4 linked regions of the Homo sapiens genome follow. The protein of the gene in region 1 purifies or fractionates together with the protein of each later gene. This does not show direct contact. Each region holds a gene or a part of one and is shown in the gene's direction. Other genes may lie near its edges.

What was found.
Region 2: the proteins of DNAJC5G (region 1) and RANBP3 purify together in Homo sapiens (affinity purification with mass spectrometry, with the first as the bait; one large-scale study listed by BioGRID). This does not show direct contact.
Region 3: the proteins of DNAJC5G (region 1) and RAB3GAP2 purify together in Homo sapiens (affinity purification with mass spectrometry, with the first as the bait; one large-scale study listed by BioGRID). This does not show direct contact.
Region 4: the proteins of DNAJC5G (region 1) and LTV1 purify together in Homo sapiens (affinity purification with mass spectrometry, with the first as the bait; one large-scale study listed by BioGRID). This does not show direct contact.

The regions. Positions count from the first base shown.
Region 1 is NC_000002.12:27,273,615-27,279,205, forward strand, and holds the start of DNAJC5G (dnaJ homolog subfamily C member 5G), read left to right. Parts: upstream 1-1,818; 5' UTR 1,819-1,939; exon of another isoform or gene 1,940-2,203; intron 2,204-2,491; 5' UTR 2,492-2,773; intron 2,774-3,076; exon of another isoform or gene 3,077-3,111; 5' UTR 3,112-3,114; coding exon 3,115-3,227; intron 3,228-4,139; coding exon 4,140-4,401; intron 4,402-4,573; coding exon 4,574-4,718; intron 4,719-5,591.
Region 2 is NC_000019.10:5,974,564-5,980,165, reverse strand, and holds the start of RANBP3 (ran-binding protein 3), read left to right. Parts: upstream 1-2,025; 5' UTR 2,026-2,083; coding exon 2,084-2,105; exon of another isoform or gene 2,106-3,785; intron 3,786-5,602. UniProt on the Homo sapiens protein: Acts as a cofactor for XPO1/CRM1-mediated nuclear export, perhaps as export complex scaffolding protein. Bound to XPO1/CRM1, stabilizes the XPO1/CRM1-cargo interaction. In the absence of Ran-bound GTP prevents binding of XPO1/CRM1 to the nuclear pore complex.
Region 3 is NC_000001.11:220,261,723-220,266,784, reverse strand, and holds part of RAB3GAP2 (rab3 GTPase-activating protein non-catalytic subunit), read left to right. Parts: exon of another isoform or gene 1-606; intron 607-5,062. UniProt on the Homo sapiens protein: Regulatory subunit of the Rab3 GTPase-activating (Rab3GAP) complex composed of RAB3GAP1 and RAB3GAP2, which has GTPase-activating protein (GAP) activity towards various Rab3 subfamily members (RAB3A, RAB3B, RAB3C and RAB3D), RAB5A and RAB43, and guanine nucleotide exchange factor (GEF) activity towards RAB18.
Region 4 is NC_000006.12:143,849,663-143,854,724, forward strand, and holds part of LTV1 (protein LTV1 homolog), read left to right. Parts: intron 1-468; coding exon 469-556; intron 557-5,062. UniProt on the Homo sapiens protein: Essential for ribosome biogenesis.

The DNA.
Region 1 (5,591 bases):
TGACCCAGAGACTATGGACCAGGTGGGTAATGCAAAGGTCTTCATCCCCTCTCCCTGCACTGACCACAGGCCTACAGAAATAAATTCATTAATTCAGCAGTCATCACGTCTGCTACAGATGGACTCCTTAGTTCGTTTGCTTAGATGGTTCTTGAGGTGGAATACTGATTTACAAGTGCACCTCTAATGCCTTCTGCTCTCTCTACCCAGTGCTGGGGAAGAAATGAGCTGGTTTGTTCTGCTAGTTCTGTCCTCCCATGAGTCATGAAAGCTTGGGGGTTAAAGAAATTTGGCATGAGACAAACCACCAAAAAACATTATCAGCTTCAGCTTCTTTTTTGGTGAGTGACCTTCGAAGGAGCTGGCGCAATGGGGGTTGGCGCAATGGCTTCAAGGAGGCTGGCACAATGGCTCACGCCTTCAAGGGGGCTGGCGCAATGGCTCACGCCTGTAATCCCAGCACTTTTGGAGGCTGAGGCGGGTAGATCACTGAGGTCAGGAGTTCGAAACCAGCCTGGCCAACATGGTGAAACCCCGTCTCTACTAAAAATACAAAAAAAATTAGCCAGGCGTGGTGGCAGGCACCTGTAATCCCAGCTACTTGGAAGGCTGAAGCAGGAGAATCACTTGAACCCGGAAGGCAGAGGTTCCAGTGAGCAGACATTGTGCCACTGCACTCCAGCCTGTGTGACAGAGTGAGACTCCACCTCAAAACACAACAAAACAAACAAAAAAAACCTACAAGGTGAGGAAAATGTGCACAAATAACTGTAATAAAAGGAAGAGAGTGATAAAAGCTACAAAAAGGTTAACAGATAAGCATTTTCCAAGTAACAAAGCTTTTTCTACTACATGTTACAGGAGCCATTGAGTGCTCTTGCAAAGAAAACCAGCACTACAAAGTAGTAAATTATAAGTGATGCAAACACTACCTCCTGTAGAAACTCACAGGAAGGGAAGCCAGGTAGAGGCATGCTCCCATGCCAGCAGGTGGGGATACAAATCCTCCTTCTGCTACCTTTCCAGAAGAAAGTTAGCAATAGAGATCAAGAGCGTAAAAAAAAAAGAAAAGAAAAAAGAAAAAAAAAATCATTTCGACCCAATAATTCCACTTCTAAGAATGTATCCTTAGGAAAAAAAATTAGACATTTGTTCAAGGATTTCTGTTGAATTTTCCTTATAAGGTTATTATATTATCAAATAGAAACAACTGAAACAGCCAAGTTGGGTTACATTATGGGACATGCTCATGATGGCATCATATTTAAGTGACGTTTTTGAAGCACGGTAGTGACTTTTGGAAAAGGCTCAATACATCATTTTAATGAGACGTGCAAACTCATCATTACGATATACTAGGAGAAATGCTTTGACAGACGAAGTGGGAACAACTGGGAGAGTGAATGATGGAGTGTCAGGAACAGGGGCATATGAGTTGGGTCTTCCAGGTTGTGGAGGTGTTTCCGGGTGGAAGAGAAGGAGGGACCAAGCGGAGAGCCCTAAGTCCTGAAGACAACTGGGAAGGTAACACACCTCTTAAGAAGGGCATGCAGCAGCCATACCTCTCATCCGCCACGGTCAGCAAACCCATTGTGTTTCCTGGAGTGAGTTGGGCCATCAAGATGGGTGGTGCCCTCCTGCTGGGGAAGAGGGGCTCGGTGGGAATCCCTGCCCCAAGGCCTGGCAGCAACGCTCCTACGCTGCCTTGGGCCGCAGGCCTGCTAAGCCCTCCGCTCTCGCTTCCCTGCGCGCGAAATAAGTCCCAGGGCCAATGTGGCCTCCCCACCCAGTGCTTCCGGGGGCGCCAAAAAACGACCTGCCCAGACCCTCAGCGTCGACGCTGCGCACAAGCGCAGTCAACTGCTGGACCCGGCCGGTGTGAAGTTTCACACCCAAAAGGATGAAGGGCACCCACCTGGCTTAAGAGAACGACTCCCAGGTAAAGGGCCAGACCCAGGTGAGGAGTCGGCACAGGGCCAGAGGTGCCCTGCACACTCAGAGCTCTCCCTTTGAGCTCCTTGCCTTGCTCGGTTCTCCTGGGCCGCAGGCGTCTACCCTGCTCTCTGGGGTTCCGCTGCCTTTTCCTTGCCAGGTCTTTCCCACAGCAACGCCTTTTCTCTTCCTTCTCCAGCCTCTGAGTCCTCTTCCTCCTCTCCCCACTGTCCCACCTCTGAGGGACAGAAGTGGGGTGGTTTGAGAGCAGGAGACTGGAGGGAAGAAGCAAGTCCAGGCCTAGCTGCAAGCACTCCCCACCCCCGCCCCCGCCCCCGCCCCCGCCCCCGCCAGGCTCTAGGACACTTGACTTCTGTTAGGCCTCACACGGTTTGGTCTGAAGTGTTTCTCTCTTAATAGCTGTGGATCGGCGAGGCTCAATGGCTCACGCCTGTAATCTCAGGACTTTGGGAGGCCGAGGTGGGTGGATCACCTGAGGTCAGGAGTTCAAGAACAGCCTGACCAACATGGTGAAACTCTGTCTCTACTAAAAACACAGAAAATTAGCCGGGCGTGGTGGCGTGCACCTGTAATCTCAGCTACTCGGGAGGCTGAGGCAGGAAAATCGCTTGCACCCAGGAGGTGGAGGTTGCAGTGAGCCGAGATCGCGCCATTACACTTCAGCCTGGGCAACAAGAGCAAAAAACTCCGTCAAAAAAAAAAAAAAGAAGAAGAAGTTGTGGAGCTGTCTGATTCCTGATCCTGTCCGTTCAGGCTGGGGCCGCCCTGGTCTTTCAAACCCAGCAGTGAGCTTGGACAGACCCAGAGGTGTTTACTCCAGGTAATAGGAGCTCTAGACAAAATCAGGCTCTTTTCCTGGCTTAGACCTCTCCCTGCTTACAACACCTCTAGGATGTGGGATATCTAGAGGTCTGTGTAGCTGGAGGATGCTGGGAAATGTGAGGAGAAGATGTTTCCTCCTTAAAATTGGAATCTTTCTGATCACCTGAATTCTCCTGCTAGCCACAAATCCCACTCACTCTTATCTTATCCTTGTCCTTCTGTCATCGTTTACCTGCCTAATCCCTGAAGGTAGTGAGTTTCCTGTCACTGGAAGTGCACTTCTCGGTACCCTTACTTGTAGAAGTTCTCACAGATGCTGCTTCTCCTCTGGCTCAGATCATGTCTACTGTGAAGGAAGCAGCACACCGGCTGTCCAAAAGTGAGATGAGCCTCTATGCAGTGCTGGATCTTAAGAAGGGCGCCTCACCTGAAGACTTCAAAAAATCCTACAGGTTCAGACCTCAGCCCTTTATTGATCCTTGGAATTTCCCCCTTAAACCTTTTTCTTTCTGTATCTCTTTTGCTATCTGACTCTTTTTTTTTTTTTTTTTTTTTGAGAGGAAGTCTCGTCCTGTCACAGAGCAGAGACAGAGACTATTGAGAGTGCAGTGGCACGATCTTGGCTTACTGCAACCTCTGCCTCCCAGGTTCAAGCAATTCTCTCACCTCAGCCTCCTGAGAAGCTGGGACTACAGGCGTGCACCACCACGCCTGGCTAATTTTTGTATTTTTAGTAGAGACAGGGTTTCGCCATGTTGGCCAGGCTGGTCTCAAACTCCTGACCTCAGGTGATCTACCTGCCTCGGCCTCCCAAAGTGCTGGGATTACAGGTGTGAACCACTGTGCCTGGCCTACGACCCGTTTGTTTGTTTGTTTGTTTGTTTGTTTGTTTTGAGACAGTCTCGCTCTGTTGCCCAAGCTGTAGTGCAGTGGTGCAGTCTCGGCTCACTGCAACCTCCACCTTCCGGGTTGAAGTGATTCTCCTGCCTCAGCCTCCCGAGTAGCTGGGATTACAGGTGCCTGCCACTATGCCCAGCTAATCTTTTGTATTTTTGGTAGAGACAGGGTTTCACCATGTTGGCCAAGCTGGTCTCAAACTCCTGACCTCATGATCCGCCCACCTTGGCCTCCCAAAGCGCTGGGATTACAGGTGTGAGCCAGTGCTCCCAGCCCTATGACCCATTTTTAAGTTCCAACAAGCCCTCACTTTGGGGCCAAATGGCACCATCACCCTCTTCATTATAGTATGGGAAGGAGTTTAGACCTTGGATGCTTGCCTCCATCCTTTGTACCACATCTCATGCATTCCTTCTGCACTCTCTAGAGACTAATCCATGTCATTCATCGTAAGTCTCCTTCCCCAGCCATTCCGCATTGCTTCCCCACCCTCCTTTTGAGTATCACCTGGGTAGGAAACTGGCCTTGCGGTATCATCCCGACAAGAATCCAGGGAATGCTCAAGCAGCAGAAATATTCAAAGAGATCAACGCAGCTCATGCCATACTGAGCGACTCTAAGAAGCGGAAAATTTACGACCAGCATGGCTCATTGGGAATATATCTGTATGATCACTTTGGTGAAGAAGGCGTCAGATACTATTTTATTCTGAATAGTTGTTGGTTCAAGGTACACAATTCTCCAGGTCCTTTAAGAATAAGGAAAGAAGGGTGACCTTCCTTTCCTTATGACAAATGCTTCTGTTGTCTCATTTTCTGGGTGCCAGGAGGATTGAGGGAGGGAAGCTTGAGCAGTCATATAGAAAACTGCTGGACTGAGGCCATTCTCGCCTACCTTTTAGACACTTGTCATCCTGTGTACTCTGCTCACTTGTTGCTGTTTCTGTTGTTGCTGCTGTTTTTGCTGTGGAGCACTTAAACCACCACCTGAGCAGGATAGTGGGAGAAAATATCAGCAGAATGTCCAGAGTCAGCCTCCAAGGTCAGGTGAGAACTGCAAGCAGGGACTGTGAGGTAAGAAATGTCTGGATTGGGAATGAAAGAAATGATTGGGGTTGGGCACAATGGCTCATGCCTGTAATCCCAGCACTTTGGGAGGGTGAGGCGGGTGGATCACTTGAGGTCAGGAGTTGGAGACAAGCCTGGCCAACATGGTAAAACCCTGTCTCTACTAAAAATACAAAAATTAGCTGGGCATGGTGGCACCCACCTGTAGTCCCAGCTACTTGGGAGGCTGAGGAGGCAGAAGAATCGCTTGAACCCGGAAGGCAGAGGTTGCAGTGAGCTGAGATCGCGCCACTGCACTCCAGCCTGGGAGACAGAGCAAGACTCCATCTCAAAAAAAAAAAAAAAAAAAAAAAAAGAAAAGAAAAGAAAGAGGCTGGGCATGGTGGCTCAAACCTGTAATCCCAGCACTTTGGGAGGCCGAGGCGGGCGGATCACGAGGTCAGGAGTTTGAGACCAGCCTGACCAACATGGTGAAACCCTGTCTCTACTAAAAATACAAAAATTAGCCAGGTGTGGTGGCGGGCGCCTGTAACCCCAGCTACTTAGGAGGCTGAGGCAGGAGAATTGCTTGAACCCGGGAGACGGAAGTTTCCGTGAGCCAAGATCATGCCACTGCACTCCAGCTTGGGCAACAGAGTGAGACTCCATCTCAAAAAAAAAAAAAAAAAAGAAAGAAAGAAATGGTTGAGGGTGAGAAAGACCTGTGAAAATGGCAGGTTAATCCCTAAATATGACAATTTCAAGTCTTCAAGTCTGGCACTGGGACAAAGTGAAGAAAAAAAAAAGATCAATATGTTTCTGTGCATCACACGACAAACTGACAGTTTGAAGGTAGTAGTGTCAGCTCCTGTT
Region 2 (5,602 bases), on another chromosome or scaffold:
CCTGGCCAACATGGTGAAACCCTGTCTCCACAAAAAAACACAAAAACTAGCTGGGTATAGTAGTACACAGCTGTAATGCCAGCTACTCAGAAGGCTGAGGCAGGAGAATCACTTCAACCCGGGAGGCGGAGGTTGTAGTGAGTCGAAATTGTACCACTGCACTCCAGCGTGGGCAACAGAGTTAGATTCCAAAATAAATAAAAGAAAGGGAAGGGAAGGAAAGGGAGGGAGGGAACAAGGGGAGGGAGGGAGGAACCATTTTTAGCTCATAGACTATATCTGGCCCACAGATTGTAGTACTCCTCGCTCTCTTTTAGATCATACTCAAAAAGGTGCAGAGCTGGGACTCCAACCTAGGTAAGACCTGAAACACAAGGTCCCAGGCAGAGAGACGACCAAGTGCAAAGACCCTTAGGTTGGAATGAGCTTGTGCTCCAAGGATGGAAAGACCCACGCGGCTGAACAGCAATGAGCAAGGGGGAACAAAGCAGGGCATGGGAGCCAAGTTCAGGGGACTTCATAAACCTGAATACAAGGTTTAGGATATTCCAAGTTCAGCTGAGAGCCCTCTGGAAGCACTGAGTGGCCTTGATATTTCCATTTTCAGTCTATGTGTATATATATATATATACACACACACACATATATATGCACACGTGTATGTATATATCTGTGTGTATATATATAGATAAAAACAAAGTATATATGTGTATATATATGGGGGAGGTTCTTGCTGTGTCCCTAGGATGGTGGCAGTGGCACTGTCACAGCTCACTGCAGCCTCAACCTCCTGGGCTCAAGTGATCCTCCTGCCTCAGCCTCCCAAGTAGCTGGGACCACAGGCTTGCACCACCACATCCGGGTAATTTTTGTGTTTTTGTAGAGATGGGGTCTTGCTCTGTTGCCTAGGCTGGTTTTGAACTGAGCTCAAGCGATCCTCCCACCTTGGCCTCCCGCAGTGCTGGGATTCCAGGGGTGAGCTACCGCGTCTGGCTGATTATATTTTTCAAAGACTCCTCAGCCTGCGGCCATGTGCAGAACCAAGCCTGGGGCTTCAAAAGAATGCAGCAAAGGATAGCAGAGAGGCCGCTGTCCAAGTCTTCCATGAGATAGATACGGACGATGTGGCCTAGGGTGGTGACAGCCTGGGGGTGACAATGGGTGGCTCTGGGCTGTATTTTGGAGGCAAGGCCAAGTCCGAAGGATTTGCTGAGAGATTCATAGCAGGTGAGTAGAGAACAACTCCAGGGTGTCCAGGACCCTCCCATGAGCCTTGTGAGTGAGGCTGATGGTCCCATTTTACAGATGGGTAACCTGGAGGCGCGCGGTTCCCCTCCCATGAGCTTGTGAAGTTGATTCTCGTAGCTCCGAGGGGTCGAGTCCCTCGCGCCGGCTCCCCCCGCCCCCAACGCCAGCACCTGGGTCCCAGGGCTGCGCCCCCTCCTAGAGCCTGACCACGACCCCCGCCCCCGCCGATGAGCTCTGATTTACCCCCCAATCCCAAGCACCCCGCGCCCTCTCGCCACTTCCCCCGTGGTTTCAGGAAAGCGTTTGCCGAAGGTACCGGCTCCTAAGGCGGGTAAACTGAGGTAGGAGGCAACGCGTCTCCCGCCCGCGCGTGTGGGAAGCCCCCGCAGGCCCGGCGATTTACCTGGAGGAAGGCCTCGGCTGCGGCGCCCTGAACTGCTCACTGTCCCACCGCGGGGGAACCCCGGAAAACGAGTGGGAAAACGAGTGCTTCAAGACCCGCCTCGGGCCGCGCGGTGCCGCCTCACTAAACCTTAGTCGCTGCCACTGCGCATGCGCCCTTCCCGGCCCTTTCCCCGCCCTCTCAGTCGGCGGGAAAAGGAGGCGGGAGATGGCTCGTGCGCAGGTGCGTGCTAGGAGCGCGGCTCGTCAGGGCAGGCTGCTCTGCAGGGCAGGCGATCCGGGGCTCGCCTCCGCGCGGCATTCAGCGCGCAGGCGCGAGCTGGCCGCCTCACACGGAGTCGGCTTGTTAAGTGCGCACGCGCGGGAGTTTCTGGCAGAAAGCAGGCGAGCCTGGGCCGGCGCGGGGCCTTGTGGGAGGGCTTAAGGAAGTAAAATGGCGGACCTGGCGAACGAAGGTAGGGGAGGCGCCGTTGGGGACCGGCTGGCGGCCGGGGAACGGGCGGCGGGAGGACTAGGGGCCACAAGCCCTTGGGGGGAGCACCGCAGAGTGCAAGGGTTTCGTCCGCTCCAGGCTAGCGCCGTGGCGGGCCTTGCAGCCGCCCCCTATTGCGTCCCCTCAGGCCGGGCTCACCGGCCCGGCCCATCACTCCCGGCAACCCCAGCCACTGCAGCCGTCTGGCTAGAGGAGCCGGGTGGCCATCGGGATCGCAGCCCTAAGGCCCCTCTGCGTCGCAGCCAAGCTCGGGGCTGAAGGGGGCGGGAGGCGCGGCCCCAGTGCTTCGGCCACGGATGTAAATAGACCTTAGGGCCTGGTTGTGGCCCGGAGCGCGCCACGCTCCCTCCCCGCCCCCTCGTCCTCCGCCACCCGGCATCTCCCCTTCCCCGGCCTGGCTGCCTATCTCCTAAGCCCGTGAGGCCCTCGTCCTCCGCGGGCCAGCCGCACACCGCGGACGGAGGAAGCCCAGGCCGTTTTCACCCCGTCCCCGCCCCGAACTTCGGCCCCCACTTCCCGCCAGTTCCCCCCGGATCCTTCGGGGCGCTTCGTCTCCCCCTCATTTAGGCCCCGCCGCAGGATCTGGGCCGCCGAAAACCCTGGCTGCTCTTTGGCCCTTTTTGCTGCACTTCCAGACAAGAGACCGTGCGAGTCCCTCCTCTGTGGAGCGCTGACAGCCCACCTGAGTGTTTTTGACAAGGTTACACTTCCAGATCCCCCGAGAAGGCACCATAAGGCTGATGTCTGCTTCCATCCATAGTCGTGTTGCCATCGCTGTAGCTTCAAGACTTCTGAGGCCTATTTTTAGCTCCCCCCCTTTTCTAGTTGCACAAATGCAGGCAAGCTCTCTACCTGTCTGGCTCTGATTCCCCCATTCGGTGCTCCCTGTGACTGGAGGGTTTTCCCTACCGAATTGCAGTAATGAATGAATGATGATAGGAAGTGCTTGGTCTTGTGGAGCATTTAGGGTAGTTACCAGGTGTGGTGCAAAGTCTTGACATACTGTTTTCCCTGGTAGGAGGTATAGATACTGTTAGCCCCATTCACTTGATGAGGAGACTGAGTCAACGTGGTTAAGTCGCTTATCCAAGGCGTGTCACACAGCTGGGAAGGAGCAGGGATGTGAACCAAGATGGCCTGGCTTCAGATGCCAGACCACGGGTGCTCAGTCCCTGCAGATTCTGATTCTGTGTGGTGTTGGGCGGGCGCTGGGCATCTGTACAGGCAGCAGCACAGGTTCTCTCCCTGATTCTTGGCCATTTTATTCTATTTTATTTTTTGGGACGGAGTCTAGCTCTGTAGCCAGGCTGGAGTGCAGTGGCGCCATCTCGGCTCACTGCAATCTCCGCCTCCCGGGTTCAGGTGATTCTCCTGCCTCAGCCTCCCGAGTAGCTGGGATTACAGGCGCGCACCACCACACCCAGCTAATTTTTGTGTTTTTAGTACAGACGGGGTTTCACCATGTTGGCCAGGATGGTCTCCATCTCCTGACCTCGTGATCTGCCCGCCTCGGCCTCCCAAAGTGCTGGGATTACAGGCGTGAGCCACCGCACCCGGCTGCTACATCTCTTTTTTTAAGATAAAGGAGCCCATGGAGGGTTGCAGCATTCCAACTCATGAGATCTAGTTACAGAGGGACTGGGTAAGTGGGAATCAGTATGACATATTTTATGTATTTACATCCTGAGCCCACATAGCTTCTTGAACTCAGGACTCATGTCCAGCATCACATTTCGACATCTCCATTTGGATGTGTCATAGGTAAGTCTAGAGCGTTTCCAAAACAAAATCCTTATCTCCCCCACTACACCTGCCCATCCCATGGTCTTTCACCCATTGTAGTTAGTTAGGCAGGTCCATTCTTTGAATTCTTCTGGCCCCAAACCTTGAAGTCACCCCTGGTTTCCCTCTTTCTCATACTGCACAGCAAATACTATCATTTCTACCTTAAAATTATTCCCAAAGGGGGACCACCACTTCTCCCCACCAACACCGTCAATGCTTAGCCCCCGTTCCCTCCACCCTTACCCATCTGAGAACTTCTCAGCCCATAGTGGGCCCCAATATGTCCCTGTCCTTCTCTCTCGCCACTCTCTGCTGCCTTGCTCTGTGCTAACTACTCTGGCTTTTTCAGTTTTCCTTGAATGTTGCATACACTCCCCGCTTTTAGCCTTTTCTCCTGCTGATTCCTCTAACTGAAACAGTTTTCCCCCAGATACCCCCATGGCTCACTTCTTCTGGTTTTTACTCATATATGTTACTTTATTAATGAGAGCTTCTCTGGCCACCTATTTCAAATTAAATCCATGTTCTCTATTCCGTTCACCCTGCTTGATTTTCCTGTATAGCTCTTAACAATCCGGCATGCTAGATATTACATGCATGTTTGCCCCATGTAAGCTCCATGAGGTCAGGGATTTTTATGTTATGATCACTGATTGCCCCCTTGCATCTAGAACGGTGCCTGGCACAGAGTAGGTACACAGGAAATATTGGTTGAATGAATGAATGCATGAATGAATGAATTCACCAGTGAGGACCCTGTTGTGAGGAATACATTTGAGCACAAAGGGGAAATTATGGCTTGCCCTTTTCCAGGGGATACTGTTTCTAGCATATGCTGTCCACATGAGCTATTGGTTGTAAATGGGATAGTTGAACTGGTAAGGGCCAAAGAGAGAAATGGAATGTTTTGAACTTCACTTTTTTTCCCTAGTAAGTGCCACACTCACCTAGCACGTTGTCCCTGACGCTAGTTCTGGGATAACTGTCCTCAGGAAATCAAATCTTGGTGGACTTTGTGCCTCATATATCCCTGCCGTCCTTCAATCAGTCATTGTGTGTTTCTTGAACACTCCATTTCTGGTTTTGGCTTGTACAGCCTGCCAGGATGTTTAATTTGTTATTCACTGTGTAAAGTGGGGCCTCCTTGCCTGTGCCTTTTGAAGCTTTAGGGGCTGCCCCATGGTCACGTGTTTGTTCTTGCTGTTTAAGCTCTAGTCAAATGCCCTCTTGGCTTCTGCCTTTCCAGACTGAGATCATAAGTTGCTCCACCCTCACACCCAGTCCCTCCTCCATCCATTTGCCATCTCTCTTCTCTGGGCCAGTCCCACCTCTGTGTCAGGCTGAGCAGCGGCTGTCCACCCGGCTGGGCATCAGTACCCCCTGGGGAACTTTCCTGAAACCGCAGATGCTCAGTCGCCACGCCCTGCAGATTCCGATTCTCTCTGGTGTTGGGTGGGTTCTGGGCCTCTGTACAGGTGGCAGCACAGGTGATTCTCATGTGCAGGCAGGGTTGAGACCCGCTGGTTTGAGTAGTAGAGGGTAGGTGTCCTCTGCTTGTATACGAGGAAATGTTTTCTGTTGTGTAAAGCATCTTGTTGGCCCTCGTCACCATGGTGAACGCCTCATGGATGGTGACAGCAACTCTCACAGCCCTTCCTGTGGTCTGGGACTTTT
Region 3 (5,062 bases), on another chromosome or scaffold:
CTTGAATACCCCTGGATCACAGCAAATTCATCAAAACCATCAAATTGCCAAAACAAAGAATCAACTAGCAAGTATTCTTAGGAATCGTGCAGGGGGAGAAATCCTTGAGCCAGGGCTGCTGTATAACCTCTCAGGAACATGCTACCAAAATTTATTTTACCATTGACTGCTGCCCTCAATCTAGAACACTAAAAGAAATATTTGTTTTACTGAGCAGGTGTGCCTTAACCTCCCTACTCAGAAAGCTCCACATCAATAAACATGACACTCTGAAGTGAAAGTAGCCACGAGAATTGTGCTACTTATACTGGTTCATAATCTGGAGGCAAGGTTCGACTGCAGCCACCCCATCAGTCTGTGCCAGGCATGGTGTCCTCCCAGGAGGCAAATCCAGAGTCTGGCTATGGGGAAAGTGACCACTTTGTGCTGACTCGATCGGTTAAGGAGCTGTCCAATAACCTTCCAAGTACCTGAGTGAGTGTGTAACTTATTGGGTTGGCCAAGCCTGGTAAAGCTGTTGGACTGAGTACGTGATTCTTTTTAAGTAGGAAAATAAAGATATTTGTACAGAAAAAAAAGTACTTTTATTTTACTGTGGACAGCTGCTAGAGATATAGTGATACCACTCTCTTCTATATTTGAATTATCAAAGTATGACTTTATGTTACTTTGTATATTTAATTACAAAAGAAGACTGTCCTCTGTAGCTTTAAAAGATGCTGAACCCTACCCTTTCCCAATGTTTACATTAATGACAACTGTTAAATTTTGTTTTTATAAAGTAAATACTATCTACTTAAGACATGAAGTCTGGTCTTACTGCTTTGTGGCTTTTTTGTTTGTTTTGTTTTTGTTTTTTAGAGACAGGGCCTCACTCTGTCACCCAGGCCAGAGTGCAGTGGCATGATCATAGCTCACTGCAGCCTTAAACTCCTGGATTCAAGGGATCCTCCCACCTCAGTCTCCTGTGTTGCTAGGACTACAAGTATGCAGCACCATGCCCAGATAATTTTTTTGGTTTTTGTTGAGATAGGGTCTTGCTGTGTTGCCCAAGCAGGTCTTGAACTCCTGGGCTTAAGTGATCCTCCCACCTGGACTCTCAAAGTGCTAGAATTATAGGCATGAGCCACTCTCCCTGGTTTATTACTTTGAAGTTGCAGGGATGGGTGGAGTATAGGTCCCCACTTTATGGGTCCCCATTTAACCTATAGTGACATAATTTCCAATGCCTAGACCAGAACTTTCTGAAATTTACAGTTGGGTTGGGCAAAAATATAAATAAATATATAAATAAATAAATACATGAATAGAGAGGGAGAGCCAGAATAGTTGGAGATAATTTGGGTATTATAATATTGTGGATTTCTTGATTTACCTAATAGTAAAATAATTTCTTATTGACATACTAAAAATGTGGAATAGTTTTCCTTCTTGCCTCTTTTACCAACCAGAATATAAAGCATGTAGGGAATTATGTTGAAATAATCAATTCATGTTTTTAAGCAATCTCTGAGAAAAATGTGCTTTATTTAGGATAACCTAAAATCATAGAATCACTTTGCATAATGGGCTATCACAAATGATATAAAATACTCTATTTTTTATATGTAGTAAAATATTTTCTCTAGTTTGAGATCATACTAGGAGAGAAAATAATCTGAAAATAGAACATTTATAGAGATTTCAGAAAATATATAGAGTTACTGGGTTTCTTTAAAATTGGAAGAGGATCATACAGATAAAATTTTACCAGTGAGGAAATTGAGATTTGAGTGTTCTTCAGTTTCTTCATTCAGGTAGTATTTATTGAGCATCTACTATGTTCTAAGCACAAAATGAGTTTAAAGATAAATAAAATAAGTCCCTCAAGCAATTTTCAGCTAATAAAAGAAGACACGTATGTGAAACGATTGTTAGAGGTGTTATGCTATGATATGGCACATGATGGGAGAGAATGAAGGAGTGTTGGTCTAGTCTATGCAGGAAACCCAGAAAGTCTTCATATAGGAGGTGATATTTACACATTAATAGTTTAAAGATGTCCATCAGATGGAGAGAAAATAGACAACAGATGTGAAACAGTATGGGATTCAGAAAGCTGCAAATAGTAAATTGTGGTGGGAGGGTGGGATGTGTTCAGAGGTGAAATTGAAGAGGTTGGTGAAGGAGTTTAGATTTTATTCAGTAGCAGGGTCTTTAGATTGAAGTAAGAGTACCTTGGGATCATGGAAATTTATAAAAGGTTGCTTGGGAACAGATGATTTTAAGTAAATCATTTTCCACATGTACCTGTGAAAGTGCCTACTTTCTCACCCTGCCTTCTCCCACTTTATCTCTGACACGTTTGTAGTCTTATTATAGTAAGTTGCTTCAAGGTGTAAAAAAAACCTCCCCTTTAATCAAAGTGTTGTAAATTCCTCCATTCGTTTTATTATTAGTTTTCCAAATTTTACTTTTTGTTTAATTATCAAGATTTATGATATATTTATGTTGTTTTCCTCACTTATTTACATAAAATAATTGTAATAACTCAAGCAAGAAGAAAAATGTTAATACTTAAGAGTCTTATCACAGGAAAATGTTTTCTTAATTCATATCCTTTTTTGCAGAGAGAGTTTTGTACTGATAATAATAAAAATCTGTGTTTATTAGAATAGCATTCTGTGGAGGAAGTAGAATAGAAATAAGTATTCAAGGAGAATAAAGGACTTGTAAAAACTGTTGAGAAGGTCAGCATTTTTTTTTAATGGATGTCGGTGGGTATCATTTCCCTATAGTGTTTAGAATCCACTAAGTTTTAAAAAGTAATAATAGTTTTATGTTTAAATGTACATGTTTATAGTATAACAGAAATTACATATTTTTTGCAAGAGATACATACTAAAAAATTCTTTTGGGGCATATATGAACAAAAAATTTGAAGGTCATTCTCCTGTAAGACTCAGTGATTCCCAGTCTTGTCTTTTCTTTTTTTTGTTGGCATAATAGCGTACATAAGAAAAATGAGATATGGACCCCAAACAGCTAAAACAATTTTGGAAAAGAAGAAACAAGTTAGAAGATTCACACTTTCTGATTTCAAAGCATATTGCAAAGCTGTAATAACCCAAACTGTATGATACTGGCATAAAGACAAACAAACCAATGGAATGGAATAGATAGCTGATAAGTAAACCCTCACATACATGGTCAAGATGATCTTCAGCAAGTGTGCCAAGAGCATTCTTTGGGGGAAAAGACAGCTTCTTGAATATATGATGTTAGAGGAAATGGCTATCCATATGCAAAAGAATGAAATTGAATCCTTATCTTATACCATATACAAAAATTAAATAGATTAAAGACCTAAATGCAGCACCTAACACTGTAAAACTTTAGAATAAAACATAGGAGAAAAGCTTCATGACATTGGACTTGCATGCTTTTGGATATGACACCAAAAGCATAGGCAGCAGAAGCAAAAGTGGACAAATGGGGCTACACTAAGCTTAAAAACTTTGTGCATCAAAGGACACAATCAACAGTGTGAAAAGGCAGTTTTCAAAATGGGAGAAAATATTTGCAAATCATGTATCTGATATGGGATTAATATCCAGAATATATAAAGAATTCCTGCAACTCAATAACAACAACAAAAAATCAACCCTATTTAAAATGAGCAAAGGACTTAAGTAGACATTTCTTCAAGGATGATATACAGATGACCAAAAAGAACATGAAAAGATGCTTAACATCACTAATCATCAGAGTGATGCAAACCAAAGCATAATGAAATGTTACACCTATTAGAAATGGCTACTATAAAAAAAAAAAAGTATCAGGATATGGTGAGGATGTGGAGAATTATAAACTTTTGTGCATTGTTGGTGGGATGATAAGATGGTACAGCCATTAAGGAAAAAATAAGAGTTCCTCAAAAAATTTTAAAAAAATTATATGATCCAGCAATATCACTTCAAGGTGTATATACAGCAGAATTGAAAGCAGGGTCTTGAAGAGATGTTTGCACACCCATGTTCATAGACAGTTCACAGTAGCCAAGAGGTGGAAACAACCCAAATGCCCATCGATGGATGAATGGATAAACAAAATGTGGTATTATACACACAATGGAATACTGTTTAGCCATTAAAATCAAAGAAATGTCACATGCTATAACATGAATGAACCTTGTTAAATTATGCTAAGTGAAATATTCCAGTCACAAAAAGACAACTACTATATGATTCCACTTACATGAGGAAGCTAAAGTAGTCATTTATAGAAACAAAAAATAGAATGGCGGTTACCAGAGGCTGAGGAAAGGGAGAACGGGAATTGTTTAATGATACAGAGTTTCAGATTTGCAAGATGAAGTTCTGGAGATCTTTTTTTTTCACAACAGTGTGAGTACACTTAACACTACTGAACTGTCCACTTAGAAATGGTTAAGTTGATAAATTTTATGTTTTTTTGTTTGTTTGTTTGTTTGTTTGTTTTTTCTTGAGACAGAGTCTTGCTCTGTCGCCCAGGCTGGAGTGCAGTGGTGCCATCTTGGCTTACTGCAAGCTCCACCTCCCGGGTTCACACCATTCTCCTCCCTCAGCCTCTCGAGTAGCTGGGACTACAGGTGCCTGCCACCATGCCTGGCTAATTTTTTTTTTTTTTTTTTGTATTTTTAGTAGAGATGGGGTTTCACTGTGTTAGCCAGGATGGTCTCGATCTCCTGACCTCGTGATCTGCCCGCCTTGGCCTCCCAAAGTGCTGGGATTACAGGTGTGAGCCACCGCGCCTGGCCTGTGTGTTTTTTTTAACCAAAATACAAAATGTCAATCAATTAGATTAATAATAAATAGATTATTTAAAAACGCGACAAAGCTGCTTATGATGGAAAGTGACATAAGTTCCAGTAGTTCCAGGCCCTACCTGACTGCTTTTACTGCTAAAAGGATCAATATCTTGGCTCACCTGCAACCCATTTACAGCATACTAAGAATCTCTGCTATGGGCAGAGGGTAGCCATTGATGGTTTTAAGTAAAAGTGTAGCAAAAATATTTTAAGATTTGAGTTCTAAACAGATAT
Region 4 (5,062 bases), on another chromosome or scaffold:
AATAGTTTCCTAGGACTGCAGTAACAAATTACCACAAACTAGGTGACTTAAAACAACAGAAATTTCTTCCTTCATGGTTCTGGAGGTCAGAAGTTTGAGATGAAGGTATCAGCAGGTTTGGTTTTTTTCTTGGGGGCTTAGAGGGAGAGGCTGTTGAATGGCTCATTCCTAACTTCCGAAGGTTACCGGTGATCATTCCTTGGAATTCCTTGCCTTATAGAGGCCTCACTCCAGTCTGCTGTCATCTGCACATGGCATTCTCCCCTGTGAGTCTCTGTCTTCATGTGGTCTCGTTATAGGACCATGGTCCAGTAAGACCTCATCTTATTATAGTTGAGAGGACCCTATTTCAAATATGGTCAGTCTAAGGTTCTGGATGGACATTGATTTGGGGGGGACTTCAACCCGGTACACTAGTTAAGAAGAATTTCCAAATAAACCTAACCATTGTGCAATTTCTTTTTCAAGAGCACTGGAATTAAGTTGCCTTCATCAGTGTTTGCTTCAGAGTTTGAGGAAGATGTTGGATTGTTAAATAAAGCAGCTCCAGTTTCAGGTATTTTTAATTGCTTTATCTTTTCATATGGATAAATGTATTTTGCAAAACATAAAGAAATGATGTAGGATTTTTCTATCCCCAGTAAAGTATTGAAACAATTGAGATATGTCTGGAATTCAGATCAGGGATTATTAGGAAGGGATGAATGTGATCTTTGTATTTTTGTATTCCTACCATCAAATCTTTATATCTTTTGAGTTCCTGTTTGGAGAGGAAAGTGGGGAAACTATTCTTGGTAATCTAGTTAGGGGAATTGTAACCTTCACATAACCTCTTGCAAAGATAGTGGTATTAATTATTCATTACTTGTAGTGTAATTTTGAAAAATAATCTGTTTTTCAGAATTTCTCCCCAGAGCATACAGGTATTTTTATGGAAGTTCATTTTGCCATCTACACATATATTGGGGGAAATTTTTTATTTTTAATTTGTAGTACCAACACTGTATTTCAGAACAAACACAAAAGTCTACAGAAGTGGTGTTGGTATTTTCTCCCAAGTTGCCTTAATTATTAACTAACACCTGTCCTGTGGCATTCATTAATTAATTTATTGTACAGATTTTTGAGTTGCCACTGTCTGTGTGGCAGGGCCTTGGGTTAAAACAGAATAAAGCATAGTCTCTGACCCAAGAATTTACCTCATTTGGGAAAAATAAACAATAAATGATAAATTACAGTATAGATGGATATTAATAGTGGGGTGAGTAGCACCAAACCCAGCATCACAGGGTTGGGCAAGGCTTTCTAAAGAAGGTGATATCTAGTTTGTTTCTTAAGTAAAAGTTAGGTAGGTGGAAGAAGGAGGGGGAGGGGTGGGGACCAGAGGATGTTCCAGACAGAGGACTGTATGTCCTAAGGCAAGAGAACGTGAATATAGGTAACTATACACATTTTAGCCTGCCCAGAAGGAAGGGTATGGATTAAAAAGAAATGAGGCTGGAGGGTTAAGTAATGGCCATGTAGCAGAGGGTGTTGGAGGCCATGTCAGATGATAAATTTGGAGTTGAAAGTTTTTCATGAACTTGAGTTTTTTGTTTTCATTTTCTGCTCCTTGTGGAGCAGGGCTAAGTCCTAAGCAGTGTGCCCAGAGTCAGCCTAGTATATTTATAGATGGAAGAACATATCTGAAGAAACAGGTAGGTATTTATTAAAATCGCAAAGTCAGAAAATACTGAAAGTATAACAGTCTAAAAATTGTTCGAGTTATTTTTAACAGGTGAATTTAAAGGCCAGTTTCTTCTTGCAGACAAAAGCTTTGAATTATGCTAGACAAAGTTAAACATTATAGATGTTTAATGGAACATTATTTTCACCAGTGGATATTAAAAGGAGAAGCATCATTTCTTTTTTCATTTTTTTTTTTAAATTATACTTTAAGTCCTGGGATATATATGCAGAATGTGCAGGTTTGTTATGTAGGTATACACGTCATGGTGGTTTGCTGCACCCATCAACCCATCATCTACATTAGGCATTTCTCCTAATGCTATCCCTCCCCTAGGCCCCCATCCCCCAACAGGCCCCAGTGTGTGATGTTCCCCTCCCTGTGTCCATATGTTCTCATTGTTCAACTCCCACTTATGAGTGAGAACATGCGGTGTTTGGTTTTCTGTTCCTGTGTTAGTTTGCTGAGAGTGATGGTTTCCAGCTTCATCCATGTCCCTGCAGAGGACATGAACGTGTCCTTTTTTATGGCTGCATAGTATTCCATGGTGTATATGTGCCACATTTTCTTTATCCAGTCTGTCATTGATGGGCATTTAAGTTGGTTCCAAGTCTTTGCTATTGTGAACAGTGCTACAATAAACCTACGTGTGCATGTGTCTTTATAGTAGAATGATTTATTATCCTTTGGGTATGTACCCAGTAATGGGATTGCTGGGTCAAATGGTATTTCTGGTTCTAGATCCTTGAGGAATCGCCACACTGTCTTCCACAATGGTTGAACTAATTTACACTCCCAACAACAACATAAAAGCGTTCCTATTTCTCCACATCCTCTCCAGAATCTGTTGTTTCCTGACTTTTTAATGATTGCCATTCTAACTGGCGTGAGATAGTTTCTCATTGTGGTTTTAATTTGCATTTCTATAATGACCAGTGATGATGAGCTTTTTTTCATGTTTGTTGGCTGCATAAATGTCTTCATTTGAGAAATATCTGTTCCTATCTTTTGCCCACTTTTCAATGGGGTTGTTTGTTTTTTTCTTGTAAATTTAAGTTCTTTGTAGATTCTGGATATTAGCCCTTTGTCAGATGGATTGATTGCAAAAATTTTCTCCCATTGTGTGGGTTGCCTGTTGACTCTGATGATAGTTTCTTTTGCTCTGCAGAAGCTCTTTAATTTAATTAGATCCCATTTGTCAATTTTGGCTTTTGTTGACATTGCTTTTGATGTTTTAGTCAAGAAGTCTTTGCCCATGCCTATATCCTGAATGGTATTGCTTAGGTTTTCTTCTAGAGTTTTTATGGTTTTAGGTCTTACGTTGAAGTCTTTAATCCATCTTGAGTTAATTTTTGTATAAGGTGTAAAGAAGGGGTCCAATTTCAGTTTTCTGCATATGGCTAGCCAGTTTTCCCAATGCCATTTATTAAATACGGAATCCTTTCCCCATTGCTTGTTTTTGTTAGGATTGTCAAAGATCAGATGGCTGTAGATGTGTGGTGTTATTTCTGAGGCCTCTGTTTTGTTCCATTGGTCTATATATCTGTTTTGGTACCAGTACCATGCTGTTTTGATTACTGTAGCCATGTAGTATAGTTTGAAGTCAGGTAGTGTGATGCCTCCAGCTTTGTTCTTTCTGCTTAGGATTATCTTGTAAATTACTTTGGGCAGTATGGCCATTTTTATGATATTGATTCTTCCTATCCATGAGCATGGAATGTTTTTCCATTTGTTTGTGTCCCCTCTGATTTCTTTGAGCAGTGGTTTGTAGTTCTCCTTGAAGAGGTCCTTCACATCCCTTGTAAGTTGGATTCCTAGGTATTTTATTCTCTTTGTAGCAATTGTGAATGGGAGTTCCCTCACAATTTGGCTCTCTGTTTGTCTATTATTGGTATATAGGAATGCTTGTGATTTTTGCACATTGATTTTGTATCCTGAGACTTTGCTGAAGTTGCTTATCAGCTTAAGGAGATTTTGGGCTGAGATGATGGGGTTTTCTAAATAGACAGTGATGTTAATCTGCAAACAGAGACAATTTGACTTCCTCTCTTCCTATTGGAATACGCTTTATTTCTTTCTCTTGCCTGATTGCCCTGGCCAGAACTTCCAATACTGTGTTGAATAGGATTGGTGAGAGAGGGCATCCTTGTCTTGTGCCGGTTTTCAAAGGGAATGCTTCCAGCTTTTGCCCATTCAGTATGATATTGGCTGAGGGTTTGTCATAAATAGCTCTTATTATTTTGAGATATGTTCCATCAATACCTAGTTTATTGAGAGTTTTTAGCATGAAGGGGTGTTGAATTTTATCAAAGGCCTTTTCTGCATCTATTGAGATAATCATGTGGTTTTTGTCATTGGTTCTGTTTATGTAATGGATTACGTTGAACCAGCCTTGCATCCCAGGGATGAAGCCAACTTGATTGTGGTGAATAAGCTTTTTGATGTGCTGCTGGATTTGTTTTGCCAGTTTTTTATTGACGATTTTCGCATTGATGTTCATCAGGGATATTGGCCTGAAATTTTCTTTTTTTGTTGTGTCTCTGCCAGGTTTTGGTATCAGGATGATGCTGGCCTCATAAAATGAGTTAGAGAGGAGTCCCTCTTTTTCTATTGTTTGGAATAGTTTCAGAAGGAGTGGTATCAGCTCCTCTCTGTACCTCTGGTAGAATTTGGCTGTGAATCTGTCTGGTCCTGGGCTTCTCTTTTGGTTGGTAGGCTATTGCTGCCTCTATTTCAGAACATGTTATTGGTCTATTCAGGGATTCCACTTCCTCCTGATTTAGCCTTGGGAGGGTGTATGTGTCCAGGAATTTATCCATTTCTTCTAGATTTTCTAGTTTATTTTCATAGAGGTGTTTATAGTATTCTCTGATGGTAATTTGTATTTCTGTGGGATCGGTGGTGATATCCCCTTTATCAATTTTTATTGTGTCTATTTGATTCTTCTCTCTTTTCTTCTTTATTAGTCTGGCTAGCAGTCTATCTATTTTGTTAATCTTTTCAAAAAACTAGCTCCTGGATTCATTGGTTTTTTTGAAGGGTTTTCGTGTCTCTATCTCCTTCAGTTCTGCTGTGTTTTAGTTATGTCTTGTCTTCTAGGTTTTGAATTTGTTTGCTCTTGTTTCTCTACTTCTTTTAATTGTGATGTTAGGGTGTCGATTTTAGATCTTTCCTGCTTTCTCCTGTGGGAATTTAGTGCTATAAATTTCCCCTTAAACACTGCTTTAGCTGTGTCCCAGAGATTCTGGTATGTTGTGTCTTTTTTCTCATTGGTTTCGAAGAACTTATTTATTTCTACCTTATTTTTGTTATTTACCCCGTAGGCATTCAGGAGCA